Linked DNA regions of Homo sapiens: region 1 is linked to region 2. Evidence: fine-mapped QTL for protein levels in blood plasma. A gene starts in region 2. The other region holds a variant in brackets. All regions are shown on one strand. Distances are from middle to middle.

Evidence for each region. PIP is the posterior inclusion probability: the model's chance that the variant is causal. The UK Biobank Pharma Proteomics Project read protein levels with antibody pairs (Olink). The fine-mapping took linkage between variants from a reference panel, not from the people measured, so its PIPs are less certain.
Region 1: its variant is fine-mapped to the plasma level of the CLGN protein (UK Biobank, PIP above 0.99). The variant lies in the coding sequence of CLGN. If it changes the protein, the assay may bind it differently, which can mimic a change of level.

The regions. Positions count from the first base shown.
Region 1 is chr4:140,394,499-140,402,843 of GRCh38, reverse strand. It overlaps CLGN (calmegin), which reads left to right. Exons shown (of 15, transcript NM_004362.3): 6 at 778-859; 7 at 2,295-2,487; 8 at 3,804-3,993; 9 at 6,639-6,752; 10 at 6,875-7,025. Among named protein-coding and RNA genes, the nearest start is that of SCOC, 25 kb to the right of the region's middle. The variant C/T (reference allele first, on the strand shown) is at 3,917.
Region 2 is chr4:140,424,502-140,432,818 of GRCh38, reverse strand. CLGN (calmegin) reads left to right here and starts at 5,171. Exons shown (of 15, transcript NM_004362.3): 1 at 5,171-5,282. RefSeq lists an enhancer at 5,965-6,014.

The DNA.
Region 1 (8,345 bases), 30 kb after region 2:
ACAGCCATTTCCTTGTTGATTTTTGTCACATATAATTCGTTAATTTAACAACAAAAAATCTCGTAAGTCTATGCCTCATTGCCATAGCAAGGCTATTTCCTTTTAAAGTTACCAATAAAGAAAAAAAAACTTTGCTGAGAATTACACTGTGTTGTAAATTCATAAGAGACTCTCATGTTCATTCTTTTAGCTGTTATACTAAACAGTGAAAATTTCCCATATCTCCTGGCTGTTTAGGTCTGAAATCCAGCTTATTGACTGAGATTATGAATCTCTTTGCTGGAGCTATTTAATTAAATGTACAACTTATTTAACATGGTAAGGTGTAATGAACTCTAGGTATCTAAGATCATTAGCAATTTCGTAGAAATCTTGCTGTAGCTGTGGTTCTTACGGCCTTTATTTTTTTTTAGTTTATAAAGTGTAAGTATAGTGCTTACCTTATCAGAATTTGAAATTTCCTGTTGTAGTTTTAGTTACAGTATCTTATGCTTAATTTATCAGTTTTGATGGAAAAAAATTTAAACAAATTGATTGGTTTGTCTGCAGTTGATTGTAATCATTCTATTTTTAATATTTTAATGATGTGTCTTGTTTTAGAGTAGTAGAAAAGCGTTTCTGCTTATTTCCTATAGGTTGTAGATATGCTTTATATGAGTTTTCTGATAATGTAAAAAAATTTATACTTACATGAATTGAGAATAATAAGATTATATTTTAAAGAGCAACTAGTAAATTTTATTTATCAGTAGTACGGTTCTTTTTCCCTTTATTCAGATATGAAGTAAATTTTCAAGATGGTATTGATTGTGGAGGTGCATACATTAAACTCCTAGCAGACACTGATGATTTGATTCTGGTATGATATTTTAATATTTAAGAAAACCTTATTAAAGTTAATAAGTATTTTTAAGGAACAAATGATAAAACTGAATATTTTGTCTTCAACTGAAATTGAAAAGAATTGTAGATATCTTTTTTCAATGTGAATTTACATAGCTCTTACAATTCGCCTTCAAGTTTTATATAAAGCTGTGTTACTTGAAGGCATCAATTTTATAATCTTTAACAACATGAAAAAGTTTACCATGTCTGTAGGACAAAAACTACGTGATACTTATAAATTTCTTTTGAAATATAGCTTAGAGTTATTTTCTTTACAGAATAAGACTCTTAAGTTTGTTTAGAGAAGCATAACAAAGCATAGCAGTGAAACAAAATGGCCGAAGAACCAAATTAAAAGGGGTTAGCAACCCACAGAAAGTAACTAATTTTAAAAACTTTTCATGATGAAATAGGTTTATACTTCTAAGAGGTTGTATTAGGACCATTGGAAAGTTGGGGATATTTCTTATAGCCTTCTCCTGTAAAAGGCTGTTTCAGACTTTCTGCATATAACAGAAATACGATAGATGAGACATCAGGGGTATATTTTTCAGAACACTTAGCTGTACATAAGCTATGAAATGTAGATGGGAGACTTTTTCATGTACTACTCATTATTATTAGGATCAAGTGAAGGAGAGGCCATTGGAGTATATGTTGAAGCTCTTGTTTTAGATGAACACTTGAAGGTAGGATGACAAAAAAATCTAATGCCAAGTATTTCTATAAGCACTTTATCTGATTAATTCACTTAATCCTTAGAGAACTCTTATAAGGTAGGTACTATTATCATCTCCATACTTCAGAGGTGATGAAATGGAGGTGCAGAGAGCTTTAAAAAATTTGAGTCAGGGTGACACCCAACTAGTTTAAGAGGCAGTGGTAGGATTTGAACCCCAGTATCTGACTCCATGCCCCATGCTGTTAACCACTATGCCATGCCAAATAAAGAGAAATTCATGTCCTCGTGTCTGTTTTTATGTCTGAATGAATCTCTCTTCATCTTGTGCTCAGAGGGTCATTTTCTGGTATCTTCCTAAGTAATAGTAATGGGTGATAATTTTAGTCTTAAGGCCATAAATATGCTTTCCTCTAATGCCTAATTCTCTCAATAAAAATATTAGTAATATAGATTTACATAGAGAGTTAAAGCATATTATGGTGTTGCTAGAGTATTTTCAGCTTCTGTCCCACATCGTCAGGAAGTAGTGTGTACTTAAAAAAATCTATATTGAAGTAAAATTTGTCATTTTCCCATGTCCTTTATTGTCACTTGTATTAAATAGCTAGCTCTCTGGTGAATTACCATTTAATATATTTTTGTAAACTCTACCCATTGGATAAAATACAGAAATGCATTAAATAGTCTGTGATTCTGGACTAATGCCAACACTCATCTCTCTTTGAAGGAAAACTTTTATGATAAAACATCCTATATCATTATGTTTGGACCAGATAAATGTGGAGAAGATTATAAACTTCATTTTATCTTCAGACATAAACATCCCAAAACTGGAGTTTTCGAAGAGAAACATGCCAAACCTCCAGATGTAGACCTTAAAAAGTTCTTTACAGACAGGAAGACTCATCTTTATACCCTTGGTATACCCTTTTAATTCATTCATGTATTCAAAAATATTTGCTGACTATTGATGTATTCATGGCAAGTGCTTTACAAGAAAACAAATGTGTACCCCATCCTGAAGGAGCTTATCTTTTTCAGAAAATAGGACATGTATAATGACAGCACGGGTAGAAAATAAAGTACCATATAAGAAAGAGAGATGAGGCACAGCTAAGAGTTCACAAGCAATATTACTTCCAGCTTAGAGACTTGGAACAAAGCTAGGAAAGATTATATTTGAACTCGTCTTGAAGTACAGATAGAATGTTGAAGACAGTAGGGTGAAAGGACATTTTAGACGTTGTGACAGTGGTGCTGTAAGAACAGAAAACTAGAAAATAAAAAGGAAGAGGCCAGAACAGAAAACTAAAAAATAAAAAGGAAGAGGCCCTTAATGCCAGACTAAAAAGTTTAGACTTTATTCTGTAGGCAGTTGTGATTATTGTTATGTCCTACCTTGTGTTGGTTGTGGCATGTACTTCGAAAGGAGAAGCATTGAGCAGCCATATATTAATATACTTAAGTAAATAGGAATTTGCATAGATATGGGGGTGAGGGACATCATAAGCAGTTGTTTCTCCCATTCTCAAGTATAATGGCTGTAGAGCTCTGGTCAGCCCACTATCAAAATCAGAGCATATTGGAACCTAATAGGACATTTTGAAATGGCCCTATTGGCTTCCTTTCTCACGTCTCAACTCCACCCAAGATTAAAGTATTTCAATCTTTTTCCCCAAATGCTGCAGTGGTAGAAACATTCATTTTGTCTGCTCGGGCAATGCCCATTTCATCTTCAATATCAGATGTGATATAATAAATATCTTTATGAAATAATTGAAAAAACTAGGCATTTGGGGGAACACCAAGTAAACTGTAGAAATAATGAGAAAATATTACTAGAACAGAATAAATTAATTTTTTGTTATACTTACAACACTTTAAGATGGTATCAAAAAAATTAAATGCTGAAAAAGATTAGCTTGTATTTTGTAACTATAAAAGAGTGAAGCTGACTCGTTATGAGTCCCAAAACAGAGCTATTTGGTATTATTTTTTATTTGAGAAGTAATGGAGCATTTTATTGTAAAAAATGCAGTTTAAAACAAAATTTTATCTTTAGGAAATGTATCTAGTGATTTTAGAATGTTTTAGTTCAATACATTGGTTATTCCTCTATTTCTGGTTGGGAAAAAAGCTTTACCCATGGAGTTAAGGGTAGTTACATTATTTAGAAGATTATCTTTAAAGCGTATATCAAAATGATAACTATAATTTATTTAAATTGGTCCCTTAGTGATGAATCCAGATGACACATTTGAGGTGTTAGTTGATCAAACAGTTGTAAACAAAGGAAGCCTCCTAGAGGATGTGGTTCCTCCTATCAAACCTCCCAAAGAAATTGAAGAT[C/T]CCAATGATAAAAAACCTGAGGAATGGGATGAAAGAGCAAAAATTCCTGATCCTTCTGCCGTCAAACCAGAAGACTGGTAAGCAAATAATTCGGTAGCAAAGCATTATCTGGCATAACTAGGTAATGAAACAACATATAAGTGAAGTTTACAACCCATGAAGTTTATTTTTTTAAACATCAGAACTACTTATTTTTAGTATTTTGGGTGAAATATTTTCTAAAATGGATTTTACACTTCCCTCCCTGTAATTTTTTTTTATTTCTATTGATAATTATGTTGCATTTTTTAATATATATTTATTTTTTATGTTTTCAATGCTGTGGATTAAAAATTTCATAAATCCAAAATACCAGTGCTTTAATTTTCATTCCTAGTTTGATCTTTATTGTATGTGTGTGAGAGTCCGAGGTGGGCAGATCACCTGAGGTCAGGAGTTCGAAACCAGCTTGGCCAACATGGCGAAACCCCGTCTCTACTAAAAACACAAAAATTAGCGGGCATGGCGGCGGGTGCCTGTAATCCCAGCTACTCGGGAGGCTGAGGCAGGAGAATTGCTTGAACCCAGGAGGCAGAGGCTGCAGTGAGCCCAAGGTCGTGCCACTGCACTCCAGCCTGGTGACAGAGCAAGATTCTGTCTCAAAAAAAAAAAAAAAAAAAAAAAAGAGTATGTTTGCCCTTAAATGAGAGAAACCACATATAACTGCTTCATTCTGATTGTTGAAATGTGTTAGAATTTGTTTTACAAAGTACTAAAAGAAATGCTCCATTAAATTTTAACTTTTGGTTACTCTGAGCACTCAGAAACTCAAGATGACATTGGTATCAGGCAAGCACAAATCTATACATTTGTAAAGTTGATTATTTCTGTTTATTTTGTAACTCATTTGGAAAATCATGAAGTGTCCTCTTGTTTAAAATTTCTATCTTTCTGTAATGATGAAAATTGTATTAGTAGTTCAGTACTTTATGTTTATATACTTCAGAATTTACTAAGTGTTTTGTTTTTGTTTTTGTTTTTGTTTGAGATGGAATCTCGCTCTGTCACCCAGGTTAGAATGCAATGGCGTGATCTCAGTTCACTGCAGCCTCTGCCTCCTGGGTTCAAGGGATTCTCCTGCCTCAGCCTCATGAGTAGGTGGGATTACAGGCAAGCGCCACCACGCCCGGCTAATTTTTGTATTTTTAGTAGAGATGGGATTTCACCATGTTGGTCAGGCTGGTCTCGAACTCCCGATCTCGTGATCCTCCCGCCTCAGCCTCCCAAAGTGCTGAGACTACAGGCTTGAGCCACCACGCCAGCCTAAGTGTTCTTTTTAAAATAAGAATGCTAGAATTAAATAAGGAGAGTTTTAAAAATTATATTGGAATAGGGAAGAACTTTCCAAATATGACATAAAATCCAAGAATCCTTTAAAAATAAGTTCAACTACATGAAAATAAATGATTTGTATATTGCAAAAAAAAAAACCTCCCTAAACTATTTCAAAAAACACACAAGAACCAGGAAAAATTATTTTCAATCATATAGCTGACAGAGAGCTAATTTCTTAGTATAAAGGTAATGAGCTAAGAAAAAATAGTTTTTGTGTATCACTTATGCTACTAAATGTACATTCAAAGTTCAGTGAGATACCATTTTTCACCTACCACATGGGCAGAAATCAAGAAGTTTGGTAACACTCTTCGCAAGGACAGGAGAAAATAGGTACTTTTGCATGCTGCTGGTAGAACCGGAAGTGGAGTGTAACCATTATAGAGAGTAATTTGGATGCTACTATCAAAATTTAAAATGTCCATACTCTTAACAATTATATTTTCACAGATGAGAAATGGCATATATTCTAGGACATTCACTATGGCATTGTTTGTATTAATAATAGTAAAATTTTGGAAACACTAAATGTCCTCCAAGAGGAGATAAGCTAAATAAATTATGGTGTATCCTCAAGTAGAAAACTATGCAACTGTTAAGAATGAAGCTATGTGTATATATATATATGTGTATATATATATATATACATATATATATATATACATATATATATATATATGTATATATATATGCTCCAGCCAGGCATGGTGGCTCATGCCTGTAATCCCAGCACTTTGGGGGGCTGAGGTGGGTGGATCACCTGACGTTAGGAGTTCAAGACCAACCTGGCCAACATAGTGAAACCCCATCTCTACTAAAAATACAAAAACTTAGCCAGGCGTGGTGGCAGGTGCCTGTAATCCCAGCTACTCTGGAGGCTGAGGCAGGAGAATTGCTTGAACCCGGAAGGCAGAGGTTGCAGTGAGCTGAGGTCGCACTATTGCACTCCAGCCTGGGAAACAAGAACAAGACTCCACCTCAAGAAAAAAATAATAATAATGGAGCTCCTCGAACAGTCTTGACACATAGTAAGCATGCAATATATATTTGTTGATGAATGACTGAGTTTTTAAGTAACAAAAGCAAGGTCTAATACATTATGTATAGAATGCTATCATTCGTATTAAAAAAAAGAATGTATACGTGTGTGCATGTATGCATAGAGCACAACAGGGAATATGTACCAAAAATTGGCAAGTTAGCAAAAGATTTAGGTGGGTAGTAGATGAGGACAAATAACAGGCACAAACAAAAGGGAGGGAAATAATTTTATGGTACCTTCTTAGTGTTGTAACATGCATTTTTAAACTTTCTGAATAATTAGTAATATAAAACGTTGTATTTACAGGGATGAAAGTGAACCTGCCCAAATAGAAGATTCAAGTGTTGTTAAACCTGCTGGCTGGCTTGATGATGAACCAAAATTTATCCCTGATCCTAATGCTGAAAAACCTGATGACTGGTAAGCACTCTTCATCTTCAAATGTCGATTTCAAATGTTTCTTACATGCATTTTTGTTACTAGTTTATATGACTGATCTGAGACTTGAGGTTACTGTATTTGCTTTGTTTTAATATCCTAAGGAATGAAGACACGGATGGAGAATGGGAGGCACCTCAGATTCTTAATCCAGCATGTCGGATTGGGTGTGGTGAGTGGAAACCTCCCATGATAGATAACCCAAAATACAAAGGAGTATGGAGACCTCCACTGGTCGATAATCCTAACTATCAGGTAACAACCGCTTGTTCCAATTATTTAGTGAAGTTAAAAATGTTGTGATCTTTTCTATTTAAATATCTAATTACCTATGTCAACTTTTGGAAGTTTCATTTTTAATTTTAAGATGTCAAAGAAAATAGACCTCAACTAATTTATATTTTAAAAGTAGAGCATCAATTATTTAATTTTCTGGGGAAATAAATCACTTCATACTATATTCTTCCCTAATTATCAGTTGATGCTCACTTTGAAATAAAGTTCTATTTTAGAAGTAAATATAAGAAGTGAATTTTGATCAAATAGACTCATATTGTACATTTTAGTAATTAATGCCTGTGCTTAATTAATGTACTTATTATTTAGTATTATTAAAATTCTGATTTTTGGCCAGGTACGGTGGCTCATGCCTGTAATCCCAGCACTTTGGGAGTCCAAGGCGGGCGGATCACGAGGTCAGGAGATGGAGACCACCCTGGTCAACATGGTGAAACCCTGTCTCCACTAAAAATACAAAAAATTAGCCAGATGTGGTGGCGCACGCCTGTAGTCCCAGCTACTCAGGAGGCTGAGGCAGGGGAATCTCTTGGACCCTGGAGGTGGAGATCGCAGTGAGCTGAGATCGTGCCACTGCACTCCCGCCTGGCGACACAGCAAGACTCAAAACAAAAAAACAAAAAAACAAAAAACCTGGCCTGGCGTGATCTTGGCTCACTGCAGCCTCTGCCTCCTGGGCTCAGGCGATTCTCCTGATTCACCCTCCTACGTAGCTGAGATTACAGGCACACCCCAGCACGCCCGGCTAACTTTTGTATTTTTAGCGGAGACGGGGTTTCACATGTTGGTCAGGCTGGTCTCGAACTCCTGACCGTGATCCGCCCACCTTGGCCTCCCAAAGTGCTCAGGTTACAGAAGTAAGCCACCGAACCCAGCCCTGATTTTTTTCTGATATCAATCGACATCTTTTGAGTGTACCTAGCTTTTTATATTAAAAGTTTCTATGTTATCCACTTAACCCTCTAGTTTTATCTTTGTAATTATTTATGGATACGTTCTAACATTATATATATGCAGTTTCATATTCTAATTACTCACTGTAGTTTTTATTAAAAGCATTTAACACAAAATGTTTCTTTTGGTAAATTTTTTTGTTTGATGTCTGTCTCTTTTATTTGACTTTAAACTCCATAATACAGGAACCATGTATGTCTCCATCATCTGGCATAGTGCCTGGCCCAGAATACATACATGTGATGGTGGAGTGAGTCAGTGAGCAATGATATTGTTGAATGTATTTGATTTAATGGACAGTTTAATCATTTAAGATCTAATGGA
Region 2 (8,317 bases):
CACATGGTGGCAGACAAGAGAAGAGAGCTTGTGCAGGAAAATTCCTGTTTTTTTTAAACCATCAGATCTCATGAGAGTTATTCACTATCACAAGAACAGCATGGGAAAGACCCACCCCCATGATTCAATTATCTCCCACCAGGTTCCTCCCATGAGACTTGGGAACTGTGGGAGTTACAATTCAAGATGAGATTTAGGTGGGGACACAGCCAAACCATATCATTCTGCCCTGTCCCCTCCAAAATCTGATGTCCTCACATTTCAAAACCAATCATCCCTTTCCAATAGTCCCTCAAAGTCTTAACTCATTTCAACATTAACTCAAAAGTCTGCAGTCCAAAGTCTCATCTGAGACAAGGCAAGTCCCTTCCACCTATGAGCCTGTAAAATCAAAAGCAAGTTAGTTACTTCCTAGATACAATGGGAGTACAGGCATTGGGTAAATACAGCCACTACAAATGGGAGAAATTGGCCAAAACAAAGGGGCTACAAGCCCCATGCAAGTCTGAAATCCAGCAGGGCAGTCAAATCTTAAAGCTCTCCTTTGACTCCATGTCTCACATCCAGGTCACGCTGATGCAAGAGGTAGGTTCCCACGGTCTTGGGCAGCTGCACCCCTGTGGCTTTGCAAAGTATAGCCTCTCTCCCAGTTGCTTTCACAGGCTGGTGTTGAGTGTCTGCAGCTTTTCCTGGTGCACAGCGCAAGCTGTCAGTGGATCTACCATTCTGGGGTCTGGAGGATGGTGGCCCTCTTCTGACAGTTCCACTAGGTGGTGCCCCACAAGGACTCTGTGTGGGGGGCTCTGACCCCACATTTCCCTTCAGCACTGCCCTAGCAGAGCTTCTCCATGAGACCCCCGCCCCTGCAGCAAACTTCCACCTGGGCATCCAGGCGTTTCCATACATCCTATGAAATCTAGGTAGAGGTTCCTAAACCTTAATTCTCAACTTCTGGGTACCCACAGGCTCACCACCTGGAAGCTGCCAAGGCTTGGGGCTTCCACCCTCTGAAGCAGCAGCCTGAGCTGTACGTTGACCCCTTTTAGCCATGGCTGGAGCAGCTGGAACACAGAGTACCAAGTCCCTAGGCTGCACAGAGCAGAGGAGCCCTGGGCCCAGCCCACAAAACTGTCTTTTCCTCCTAGGTCTCTGGACCTGTGATGAGAGTGGCTGACATGAAGACCTCTGACATGCCGTGGAGACATTTTCCCATTGTCGTGTGGATTAACATTTGGCTTCTTGTTACTTATGAAAATTTCTGCAGTGGAGATTTTCATTTCTATCACATTGTCAGGCTGCAAATTTTCAAACCTTTTATTTTCTGTTTCCCTTTTAAAACGGAGTGCCTCTAATAGCACCCAAGTCACCTCTTGAGTGCTTTGCTGCTTAGAAATTTTTTACACCATATATCCTAAATCATCTCCCTCAAGTTCAAAGTTCCACAAATATCTAAGACGGGGCAAAATGCAGCCAGTCTCTTTTTTTATATATGCTGTGTGGTATGGATTGAAAAATGTACTTATTACATGTGAATATTCAATTGTACCACCACAATTTGTTGAAAAGACTAGGCTTTCTCTACCAACTGCATGTGTACCTATGTTGAAAACCAGTTCCCCACACTGTCTTATTCTGTTTTGTGTTGCTATAACAGAACACCTGGGAATGGGTAATTTATAAAGAAAAGAGATTTATTTAACTCACAGTCTGGCTAGCTGGGAAGTTCAAGGACATGGCTCTGGCTTGTGGTGAGGCTTTTGTGCTAGGCCAAAAGATGGCAGAGAAGGTCAAAGGGGAAGCAGACGCATGCAAAGAGGGAAAACCTGAGGGGCACCCAGCTTTATAACAACCCATTCTCATGGGAATGAATCCAGTCTCGTCAGAGCAAGAACTCACTCACTACTGCAATGGCATCAAGCCACCTACGAGGACAGGACCTTCATGACCCAAATACCTCCCATTAGGCCCCACTTTCCAGCACTGCCACACTGGGGACCAAATTTCAACATGAGTTTTGGTTGGGACAAACCAACCATATCCAGGCCATAATACATACACATGTAAGTCTATATAGAATCTATTCTGTTCCATTGATTTGTTTGCCTTGATACTAATACTCTTTGATAACTCTTTGATAACTATAGCTGTATATCATTCTATAAATCCTAAAGTCGGGTAGTGTTTCTGAGGGGGGTTATCTTGAGACACAAGAAAAAAACTCAGCATGGGCTCATTCTGCCAACTATATAGTTTAACCAGACGAATTCTGGGAAAAACAATGATGACTATTGTCATTACTATTATTTACTATTGTTTGATATTTTTGTTAAAGTAATAAGGAAAAAAACCTCAGAAAATAAGTATAAATATAAGAAAGAAAAGATCATTTTCTGCCATAGACATAATTATACATCTTGAAAATAAAAGTCAACCCACTGGAAATACTTGTGGAATACTTTGTTTCCTTTTCTCTATTTTCTGCACCATTAAAAAGCACATTCCTAAACATATGAAAATATACAAACATTTTTAAAGTATTATTTGAATTATCTAGGTTCTGAGTCCACTCATTGTATTTGAGTTAAAACTTCATTCTGCATAGCTCTTTAATCCTGATAATCGAGGCATTTCCTATATTCTGCATTTTTCAAGTGGCAAGGTGTTGTGGAAAGGGCACAGGCTTTGAATCCTCACTCTGCATCTTAAGATCTGTGTGAATAAGTTATGTAACTGATCTGGGTCTATTTCCTCATAAGTAAAATAAGGATGATACCTGTGGGTCAATTGCATATAGCAACTTGCACATAGTAGAACATTAATAAAACACAGCTCTGATTTTGATTACAAAACAGGCTTCCAACAGGACATCACTCTGTTCCATCAAGGAGCATGAACCTTTCTGCTTTTTTTTTTTTTTTTTTTTTTTTTTTTTTTTGACACAATGTCTCACTCTGCCATCCAAGCTGGAGTGCAGTGGCACTATCTGGGCTCACTGCAACCTCTGCCTCCTGGGCTCATCCCACCTCAGCTTCCTCCCACCTCAGCTTCCCAGGTAGCTAGGACTACAGGCATGCACCACCATGCCCAGTTAAATTTTTTGTATTTTTTTGTAGAGATGGGGTTTCATCATGTTTCCCAGGCTGGTCTCAGGCAGCTCGGCTCAAGTGATCTACCTGCCTCAGCCTCTCAAAGAGCTGGGATTACATGCATGAGCCACCATGCCAGGTCACCTTTCCTGCTTTTTATGTTTTTCTAGATTTCTGATTACTCTAGTCCCTCCAATCTTGATTACATTGCCTTGGTCTCTTCCCAAATCTCTCTTCAACTTTGATGTGTCAGAACACTTCACGACTCTACCATTCAGCATTACATTCTGGGACTCCTCCGCTTGTATTATTAAACACTACATCACTCTCAAAAGCCATACCCCTTGTCTTATTTGCAGATTATTCTTTCTCCTCTGACATTATCACATTGTATTATTCTGATGAAAAGTTGCCTATTAAACAAATTATAAATATTATATTCAATCATCCTTTCAATAAGTGGCAAATAATTTTGGAGATATGTTAAGGCCTTAAATTTCAAGGTTAGAGATTAGATTTCATGCTGTGGGTAATGAAGGGTCATTGGAAACTATTGAATGAGCTGAGGATTAAACTACGAAGTGTAGGTGGGAGGCTCTGAAGGGGGGCAACTAGTTAGGTAACTCTGAACAACAGTTTCTAAAGTAGTGAGAATCTAAACTAGAGAAATGGCACAGGGACTGGAGGGGGTGAGGACCTCTTTTAGATGATTTTATGGAGTTAGAGTTTAATTTATGGAGGCAGTGAATGTAGCAGCCAAAGAGTAAAAAAATGTTCTCAAGGTTTTGAGTACTATGTGACCAAGAAGATACTACTAAATCTTGCAAAAATTCACTATTCTTACATTTTTAGTTTTCAGCTTCCTCACTGCAAACTTTGAATGGATCCTTTAAAAAATCCCTCTCTAGCAGTTCAAGTGTATTTGTTATGGGCCACAGAAGTATGTTGAATAATAGAAGTCAGAAGGACGGAAGAAAGAAATAAAGGGTATAATATTGTTACAAAGTATCTCAAACAAAATGTCTTTTTAACCAGTAAATTTTAACACTATCCAAACACTCTCCCAGAGATGACAAAGTCAAAAGTTTAGAAATGCTGGTCTTAATTAGTGAAGCAATGTGAAAAAACTCAGTGATCTTGACCCCTAGCCAATAATGATACGTTGTGCACGGAATGCCACCAAACCCTTAAGATTGAAACTCTTCAACAAGGGTCTTAGACTCACAAGTCAATTAAATGTTGTTAATTAATCTTCCAATAAAATTAAATTGTTATACCAAATTCAAAGTCAAGATTTACTATAAAATATTAAGTAGTAAAATTAATATTGATCCAATATATAAAAGGCAAAGCAGCTTGTGATTGCATAATCATAGCATAAACTACGTTTATGCTAAGATTTATTTCAATGTGTTTGAAACTACAGGCTCTGAGAGAGACAGGCCTGATTTACATCCCGTTTCCACTGTTTACATGTTGTGTAACTTCGAGCAAGTTGCCATCAGTTTCATCACCTGGGTTGCCACGAAGGTTAAACAATGAATGTAAGCCCCTTAGAGCACAATGAACACAATAAATGTTAGCAGCTCTTATTAATAGTGTTGTTCGAGAGAAAAAGAACATATTGTTTTATATACAATGTATTTATTAACACTTAACGCATCTGTATTTGTCATATACACACACCAGACAGGAAAGCTCCTTATTAATCACCATGACTGCAGATCTGTTAACATCTAGAACTCTGGAGAAAACCTAGAGCCCTAATCTTGCTGCACTTATTACTGGACGTTGTTCATAAATATGATTTACATAAAATTCAGGACCCAATCATTGCGCAACAGGAGGTAGCACGGTCTGCAGAGAGGGCGGGAGCTCAGAGGAGGAAAAGTCTTCGGACTTGCAGGGGGAATTCCTCCTGGGCTAACCCGGGAGCGGGGTCCAGGCCACAACCGGCCGGCGGCGGCACAGGCTCCATGTGCGGCTCCCCCTGGAGGCGGTTGAGCCCCTCGGAGCAGGAGCGCGTAGCACACACCTCGGGCCGCCACCGCCTCCCGCCCGCCACCGCACGCGCACGCGCGGTTAGTAGTCGCTGCTGCGCGGCCGCCGGCGGGACTGGTCTGAAGAGACGCGGGGACCAAGTGGCAACGACTTGGACATCTGAGCTGTCACTGCCGAAAACAGGCCGCAAGAGAGGTGCGTGAGCAGCAGGCCGCGTTCCCGCTGTCCCGCTGCCCTTTGCGCGCAGATTGGGGTGAGGAAGCGGAGTCGTTGCTGCTTCCCCCAGGCACCCCGTTACTTTGCCGCCAGAGGGCTGAACCGGTCGGGGCCAAGTGAGGGTGGATGTTGAGTCTGGCGATGGGGCTGCAGCGAGCTAGGGTCTTGACTGGGCTCTGGCGGCCCCGTGGGTGGACGCAGGAGGTGGTGCCACCTGGGACCCTTTGTGTCTTCAGCACCGCCGCATCCACCTGCTGCGCCCGGGCTGGGGCGGACGAGCACGGGGACAGCTAGGTGCCTAGCCCGGCCGGCCTCCCCTGCGGGCTTGAGGAGCCACCGGGAGCCGAGGCCGTTATTCCAGCGGTTGCCATTGCAGCCCCGTTCCACGCTTGAGCCCGGGGCGCTCTCCCAATGGTTGTAGAGGGGGCCCGGGGCGCGTCTGGGCGCTGCTCACTCTGCTGACTGCTCCTTACAGAAACCCAAACGAGATCAAAATAGGCTCGGCTGTCTCAGTCTCCACCTATGTGGAAGCGAAGGGACCCCACTTCACGGCGGTGGGGCCAGGGACTGTTGGCCGCTCCCTCGATACCCGCGCAGAGCCCATTGTGCGCCGCCGGGGGGCGGGCGAAAGGGCTGGGTTGAATCCAGAGAGGCCCTAATTACTAGACTCATTATCGCCCCAGGCCTGTTTACCATCAATCAGACACTTTCGCTGATTTTATTTATAGCATCTGCCCAAGCAACAAAGAGGAGGTGTTTGCTTGGGAGTTAAAAGCAAATGGCAACCAAAGCTCAGGACTGGGAGAGAAAAGGTAAATAACGTGGCCACAGGAAGAAGTCTCAAATTAGAAAAGAGTTCATTAACGTATAAACTTTTTGTTGCTTAAAAGCAGGCAAAATCCCGATCTCATCTGATGATTTTGCTTGTTTTACAAATGTCGACATCACTCGAGGTAGCCCTCCTTTGGGTCATTGTAAGTTTGACCTGTTTTCAGTTTGGAGTTTTGCCTTCACGTCTTATTGGTTTGATCTTCCAGTAACATTTAGATCTCATCTCCAAATCCTCAGAACAAGATATTCTGTACTCTCTGTCTTAGCTAGTTGATAAGGTTAATTATTGTGTGTAAATGATGTAAGTATGTTGATGCATTTGTCTAGAAATTGAAGTGTTGTAAGTTAGCTGTAGTACTTTTTAAGTACCTAATAAATACTGGTGTTTTTAAATAGAAAACTAGAATTATGAACTTTAAAGAATCTTTGGATTGTCTAGTTCACGTCACAAATGAGAAAACAGGCCCACAGCAGTTTTTATCACTTGTCTTTTTAATAATAAAACTAGAAACTTGGTGCGATTGTGCCATGTTGGGTGTACTTTTTATTATATCATTCTACATTGCATTCCTGAAGCCACATGACAACTAAAACTTTAAGTAATAGGTGATTGTCAAACACCACTTCTGGAATATACCAGTGTTGGTCGGATCCTCAGTCAGCCATTAAAACTGAATAACAGCAGAAAGGCATCGCAGTTATAAGAAATAGCATGTACAAAAAGTGTGTTAAATAGGTGTGTTGAGAGTGAAAGAAGGCCCGGCGCGGTGGCTCACGCTTGTAATCCCAGCACTTTGGGAGGCCGAGGCGGGCGGATCACCTGAGGTTAGGAGTTGGAGACCAGCCTGACCAATATGGTGAAACCCCGTCTCTACTAAAAATACAAAAATTAGCCGGGCATAGTGGCGCGCGCCTATAATCCCAGCTACTCGGGAGGCTGAGACAGGAGAATCGCTTGAACCAAGGAGGCAGAGGTTGCAGTGAGCCGAGATTGTGCCACTGCACTCCAGCCTGGGTGACAGAGCAAGACTCCATCTCAAAAAAAAAAAAAAAAAAAAAAAAGGAATTACAAAAATGTGTCACAGAAACATAAAGTGACTATAGTGTTGGAAAAATGGCAGCTGTAGACTTGTTCAATGCAGTGTTGCCAGAAACCTTCAATTTGTGAAAAATGCAATAAATCAACGTGCAGTAAAATGAGGTATGCCTGTATGTACACACACACACACACACACACACACACACACACACACACCCTATTGATTCTGCTTCTCTGATGAACTCTGACTAATAAAATGACTCTCCTCCAAGTAATGATTCAGGGATTCTGCAACTTCCTACCTTGGAATTTTGCCGTTTTCAACCATGACCTTCAAAATTGCTTGCATCAAACCAGAAGGGGAAAGATCATAAAGAATTATAATTCATAATTATAGGAAGTTTTTATGGGCAAGGGCTGACAATGGCATACAGGTCTTCTATTTACATTCTGTTGGCTGGAACCAGGTAATGGTCACATCTAGTGCCAAGGAAATTACCCTTGTGATCAGCCAGCAACTTCTCCCACACTATACAACACATATTGCATATCCTGTGATTGTCTTTTCTTTGTGTGCCTTACTTACCTTTGATGTGACAGTGAGCATTACTTCAATACCAGTACATGAGCTGCACTTTATAATTTGTAATTTGGGGGTGGTAGTGGAGATCCAGTAGGGTTTTTAGGAGATATTGGTGTAATTATTTAAAGTAGACCAGACTACTTGATCTAGATTTCAAAGATTGGGAAGAATGGTATCTCATTCATGGATAAAGTTACTTGTGCTTCAATTTGTTATTGAACTACCACAGAAGCAGTGCAGAGAACATACATGAGATCAAAGATACGTGTTGGTGCAGAAGGATGTAGTTCTTCAGTGCCTCCCTTCTTATGAAGGCACAACTGATATTTAGTGATCTCAGCAAGCCTCATGGAGTGAGGAATACATAAGAAGCTTGGAACCCTGGGCATGCTACCTTTTAATTTATAAGGAGGGAAGAGGGTGACATTAGCACTAAATGTTCTACCCTATACCATATAAACAAATTCTTGCTGTACTAAAATTATATAACTTAAACAACCATACAGATCAATAAAGAAATAGATAACACCACAAGCCAACTAAACATAATAAACATATGGA